Homo sapiens: one gene and its partner. The protein of the gene in region 1 purifies or fractionates together with the protein of each later gene. This does not show direct contact. Each region holds a gene or a part of one and is shown in the gene's direction. Other genes may lie near its edges.

What was found. Proteins that work in one complex are often made in the same cells at the same time.
Region 2: the proteins of TRPS1 (region 1) and ZFHX3 purify together in Homo sapiens (affinity purification with mass spectrometry; one large-scale study listed by BioGRID and IntAct). This does not show direct contact.

Annotation. Positions count from the first base shown.
Region 1 is NC_000008.11:115,407,996-115,410,985, reverse strand, and holds the end of TRPS1 (zinc finger transcription factor Trps1), read left to right. Parts: 3' UTR 1-2,490; downstream 2,491-2,990. UniProt on the Homo sapiens protein: Transcriptional repressor. Binds specifically to GATA sequences and represses expression of GATA-regulated genes at selected sites and stages in vertebrate development. Regulates chondrocyte proliferation and differentiation.
Region 2 is NC_000016.10:72,782,385-72,786,128, reverse strand, and holds the end of ZFHX3 (zinc finger homeobox protein 3), read left to right. Parts: 3' UTR 1-3,244; downstream 3,245-3,744.

The DNA of each region.
Region 1 (2,990 bases):
AAATTTATTTTTTTAATTTAAGATTTCTGAATTATTTTATCTTAAATTGTGATTTTAAACGAGCTATTATGGTACGGAACTTTTTTTAATGAGGAATTTCATGATGATTTAGGAATTTTCTCTCTTGGAAAAGGCTTCCCCTGTGATGAAAATGATGTGCCAGCTAAAATTGTGTGCCATTTAAAAACTGAAAATATTTTAAAATTATTTGTCTATATTCTAAATTGAGCTTTGGATCAAACTTTAGGCCAGGACCAGCTCATGCGTTCTCATTCTTCCTTTTCTCACTCTTTCTCTCATCACTCACCTCTGTATTCATTCTGTTGTTTGGGATAGAAAAATCATAAAGAGCCAACCCATCTCAGAACGTTGTGGATTGAGAGAGACACTACATGACTCCAAGTATATGAGAAAAGGACAGAGCTCTAATTGATAACTCTGTAGTTCAAAAGGAAAAGAGTATGCCCAATTCTCTCTACATGACATATTGAGATTTTTTTTAATCAACTTTTAAGATAGTGATGTTCTGTTCTAAACTGTTCTGTTTTAGTGAAGGTAGATTTTTATAAAACAAGCATGGGGATTCTTTTCTAAGGTAATATTAATGAGAAGGGAAAAAAGTATCTTTAACAGCTCTTTGTTGAAGCCTGTGGTAGCACATTATGTTTATAATTGCACATGTGCACATAATCTATTATGATCCAATGCAAATACAGCTCCAAAAATATTAAATGTATATATATTTTAAAATGCCTGAGGAAATACATTTTTCTTAATAAACTGAAGAGTCTCAGTATGGCTATTAAAATAATTATTAGCCTCCTGTTGTGTGGCTGCAAAACATCACAAAGTGACCGGTCTTGAGACCTGTGAACTGCTGCCCTGTTTAGTAAATAAAATTAATGCATTTCTAGAGGGGGAATATCTGCCATCCAGTGGTGGAAATGTGGAGTAAAGAAGCTGGTGGTCTGCTTCTGTGCTGTATGCCAGCCTTTTGCCTTAAGTTGAGAGGAGGTCAACTTTAGCTACTGTCTTTGGTTTGAGAGCCATGGCAAAAAAAAAAAAAGAAAAAAAGATCAAGTCGTCTTTGGTGAGCCAGTAAGGTGAAAGCTTGCTGACTGTCCAAGGCACAAGAGAAAATTGAGGAATTGAAATGCAACCTGAGTATCAAACTAAATATTCTAATCAAAGGTAGGTACTGTTAGGTGGAATTCTATCAGCAGGCAACTGCAAATGAGAAGAAGATAGAAGGACGCCCGTCGGGACTTTGGAGGGCATTGTTATTTTCCCAAAGAAAGACGGCCAAGGGCAGAGGCATGGATTCTTTGCAGAGCACTTCCTTTTGGTTTTTCAGTACTGTTTCATAGACAGTGGGCTCACATGTTCCTGATAGTGCTGCAGTTGCTTAGAAAGCATCCCAGTTAATTGCAGTAATTAGAACTTCTGGAATATGCTAGGGCAGAAGTATGTCAAGTATGTCACATGAAGAAAATGTGAAATTCAAGAGTAATCCACACGTGAGAAACTAGACAATGTACATTCATGTGTTCTCTTGAAAGGAAAGGGAGAGCTGTAAGCTTCACTCTGTCCTACACCGGAGAAAAGCAGGAATAACTTTACCGTGGAAATAATGTTTAGCTTTTATCAGAGAAAATTGTCCTTCTAGAGCATAGAGTCCCAAAACTCAATTCTGGTTTTCCCCTGTTTTTTTTTTTTTTTTTTTTCCCAACATATAAACTGCAGCATATCACTTTTTCTTTTTGTGCCTCAGGTTCCTCAGCTGTAAAATTGAAAAATATATGTATTAATAATATTATTAATAATAATAATGGTAATGTAGTACTTGTTTGTAAAGCACTTTGAGATCCTTGGTTGAAAGGCACCATAGGAGTGCCAAGTATTATTATGTGGCCAAGGGGGTTATTTAAACTGTCAGTTCCCAAAGGCCAGGAAAGGTTGGGGTCATTTTTCTTAAAGACGAGCTGTAAATATCAACTAGGCAGCCAATAGTGTTGACTATGAAGATGCAAAACTATTACTAGGCTGATAAAATCATAGTTTCTTAATGGCTACCAATAAGGCAAATATCACAATAATAAACGCCAAATTCCTTAGGGCGGACTATTTGACAACCACATGGAAAACTTTGGGGGAGGCATGAGGGGGGAACATCTCAAAATGCCAATGTAAAATTTAACTTACAGCAATATTCACCAGCAGAAAATGTCTTTCATATGGAATGATTTCATGTTGCTAAGAAAAAGAATTCAATTTGTAGTCCTGATTTGAATACTAGAATGTTGGCTATAATAGTTCTGTTCTTACAACACATGAAATTTTTTCGTTTTATTTTATTTTGTTTTCATAGTGCATGTTCATTTCTACTCACAAACATGTTCTTGGTGTATTTCTTATGCAAACAATCTTCAGGCAGCAAAGATGTCTGTTACATCTAAACTTGAATAATAAAGTTTTACCACCAGTTACACATAACGGCGTTGGTATGGTTTATATGGATTCACTTTCATCCTTCTAGCAATAGGAAATACAGATCATTGTAATATATATATATATATATATATATATATATATATATATATATATATATATATATACAGGCTCTGCTGAATTGAAATGGTGAAATCAAATCACCATTCTAAAAAATTATTACTTATATTGATAAAGCCTGGACTCTCTCAACTTGTTGTGCTTTGATTTTTTTTCTTAAACAAACACTCTCTCACTGATATATTTTGTGTAAAAAGATATATACTACTTTCTCCAGAGAGATAACATAAAAATGTGTTTATTTCAAAAACATTCAGTTGAGTATCAAATATTGAGTGTCGAGTATTGGGTAATGATTATGTTACGATGTGTAAAAACTCCTGCTTATGAAGTTTAACTTTGAATTCGGTATACTCATGTGAACATGATGCAATTCCTAATCAATCATCTCAAAAAGTTTAAATTAATATATCAAATATCTT
Region 2 (3,744 bases), on another chromosome or scaffold:
TTCTCCCCTTGTCCCTTAATTCCACTTTCTCTTTCTTGTCCCTTAATTCCACTTTCTCTTTCCTTCTCCCACCTCCCGTCCTATAATCTCCCACTTAAGGTAGCTGCCTTCATTTCTTAGAGGGAGCTGCAGAATTATTTTATAAAACTAAAGAAAGAATTTCAAGGGATTCTAGGGGTCATTAGGATCCTCACAGATTATTTTTGGTTGGGGAGTTGAAACTTTTTAAAGGCATATAATTCTAGTTACCTGTGTCTGTTAGCTTTGTGCATTTATTTTTTATTTATCCTTCTTTTGGCTTTTTTTTCTTTGTACCCCTTCTTTTCCTCCTTGTTTGGTAGGAGCTTCAAATATTCTTTTTTTTTCTATACTAAAGGATTTGTTTCCATTTGTGTAATTGGCTGTGTACTTTTCTTTTCTAAAAAAAGTTTTTGGTTAGGGATTTGGTTTTTGGTTTTGTGTTTGTTTTTTCTTTCCTCTCTCAGAAAAAAAAATTTCATGCTTTAAATAAAATCCAAAGACACACCCTTTCACTGCTGATGCAGAAAAAAGGGAAAGGGTTCTTGTTACTTGAGAATTTGTTTCTGATTTAAACAAACAAGACTTAGTTTAATAAAAGAAAGAGAAAAACAAAAGATTCCCAGGTTGTTATGTGCTTCTTCTGCAAGCAGAGAGGCAAATGTTAATGACAATTCCATATACCAAAAGACACATTTTTTACTTCAAAGTTTTGTCCTTGTGTTAGGCAGTCTGAGCAGCGAGTGATCCAGAGCGCAGCCAACAAAGCAGCAGATAGCAGTGTACAGAAAGCAAAAAAGGAACTGTATGTGAGGCACTTGTTTCTGTTAATATCCATATTCCTGTTAACACACACCCTTTCTCATGTAAAAAGAAAAATAAATAAATGGTCTGAACTTTGAAAACTTTGTGCTGCTAAAACATAGATTTTGGAGACAAATAAATAGATGCTTTGCTGTTTCACTTTCATAGCTAAACATCAACAGAAACCATCTCCCCTTGCCCCCAAAGTGTGAAATCCTTCTTCCCTTCGTTTTCTTCCTTATGTTTCAAAAGGGAACTTTGAAGACTGTGAATACAGGTTCCATTGGTCACCTTTCGGGCTTCTTTCCCCAGTGCTGAAGCCACTCATCGACTTTGCAAAAGACTGGAGCATTCCAAGATCTGAAAATGGATTTTTTTTCTTTTTTTCTTTTTTAGCCGGGACTATTTTATTTTTATGAATTTGTTTTTAGTTTAATGAAATAGTAGATCCTGAAATGTTGTACATATTTCTAACTAGGCTGATGCACAGTGCAAATTCCTTTTTTAATTGTTTTTTTTAAGTAGAAATACTAAAGAAAGAATACCATCTAACTATTCATACCAGTATCCAGTTGTAGCATAAGGTGTCAAAAGCAAGTACGCAAAACATTTACTGTTTTAACAAGCTATTTCCTTTTAACAAGAAATCTTGTATTTCTTCCTGTGTTTGAGATGAACATTTTTAAATTTTAAAGTTGTACAGTTTTTTGTTTTCCATTATTTTATCTTGTTTGTAACTCTATGAAATATATATATATATATTTTTTGCCATTTAACTGTTGTATGTTACTCTGTGTCTGTACCATATAGAAAAAAAATTGTTTTTGTTTTTGGTTCTCTATGTGATATCAGTTAACAATGTAACACTAGCTTTACCTGTCAAATTCTGCTAGGTCTTCTCTGAAAACGTTGTTTTTAAAAATGATATTGCTTGGTAATAGTGCAATTTCTATCCTTTTCCCTCCCCCCTCAACTTTTAAGTTCTTTTCTTTATAATTTTGCTGCCCCCTCCCTGATGGTTTGGGTTTTTGTTTTTGTTTTTGTTTTTTTTTTTCATGGAGCTACTATGCCATCCTCCCTCTGTGAGGCAGAGTGACTGTCAGTGTTTTGTTATGCCATGCCTTGAGCTGTGGGTGTTTGGCGACAATAAGGTGGTTGAATAGATTGGCTGAGCACACTTCCACCCACCTAGTGTTCTCAGAGGGGTTATGTGATTGTTTCAACCTGGAGTGGGTTGCACCCTTAATGCTTTCCTCTGCAACTAAACCGCCCACATATATGTTCATTGAAAAAAGTAAGAATAATTCTCAGCACTAACCCAGAAGTAGCAAAGCAGTCAGTGATGGTGAACATTAGAGGTCAAACATGAGTTAGATGTTTGTGGGCTGACAGCCATCGTGGCTATGACCAGTACTATTTACAAAGCATGAATTCACTACAATGCTCAACTGTTTGTTTAGCTTTATCTCACTTGGGGAATTTATTCCTGTCTGCTGCATTGTAGGTAGCTGGGTAGGATATATTTCCACTTGCTTTTTAAATTAGTTCTTCACCTCCATTGACACTCGTTTTTTGGTTTTCTCCCTATAGTGTGGGTTGGTGCTAGACACCAGTCTGACCCACAGAATGGGAGTTATTTCATCCATCTTTCCTCCATCCTTCCAAAAACCACATATCTACACAAGGAAAAATTTAATACATCTAGGAATTTTTTTTTTAATTACAAGCTATTTAAAGAGATGAATGTGGCCAAAGTTTTACACAATTGAAAATAAAGTAAAACAGACGGCATGTGTTTAAACCTGAGTTTATCAGGCATGGCAGGAAGTTGCAGGAGAGAGAGGCAGTGACCCAAGCCAGTGCACTTGATGTTCATGGACATATATTTTTTTTAAATAATAAATTAAAACATTTTAAATAGAAGCATAAATTGAGTTGTTTGTTGGCGCTGAGATACTGCCCACTGTGAAACAAAGCTTTGACTAGTTTTTTGTTTGTTTACTTTCTTCAGGGGGGAGGGGGGCAAGTTTGGGTAGGAAAGAAAGCATAAATGAACGTGACCCTGAGGTGAAGAGGTATATGAACAGCCTTTGCAATGTACAAAAAGAAAAAAAAACAAAAAACAACAAAAAAAATAGAGCAAGTGAAACCAAAAATGATGTTCTTGGTGTTTTTCTATAATGTAGTCTTGTTAGCTTTTTTGTTACTGTAACAATGCTGATCTCGAACTGTACCAAAATACATGGAGACTAACAAACAGAACCACATGGAACTTTCAAACTGAAAAAAAAATTTGTCACAAAAACTTTGTTGTCATAGTTAAGTTGATTGTAGATGGTAATTGAATATACTCCTTTGAAAATATTTCATCAAGTATGTTTCCTGCTCATTGTGATACATTAAAAAAAAAATATGAGCAAAAGCTCCTGTCTCTGTTACCACATTTGTGCACATGCATGTGTGTGTGCAGGAGAGAGAGGCTGATGGCTGGCAAAGTATAAATGTGAATACCTTGAGGTTGTGTGTGCAGGGAGTACTTATCCCAAGGTACAAAAGGATGTACACGAGCCCTTTAGTGTTTCTAAAGACGCTTGTATTTCCCATCTCCTGGGGCTCATGAATGTCAGAAGTTTGGGCCATGATGCCGTCTGCGTTTCTTCATTGGGAGGGGTGAGTCTGATATCTTGGACGATATTTGGCCCTAGAGTGCCCTAATAGCAACTAGATTTTTAATTCAAATATTTATATGAAAGTTTTTGATGCTTGACACAATTGCAGGCAAAAAAGTTTTACTGATTGATAGCCATGAGAAAGGTAGGTTCAACTTTTTTGAAATGGGAATTGGATCTAGTGTTTATGACAGAAAGATATGAACGGTAAGTTGAACTAATGGATAACTGACTACATTTACCTGTCCTAGCA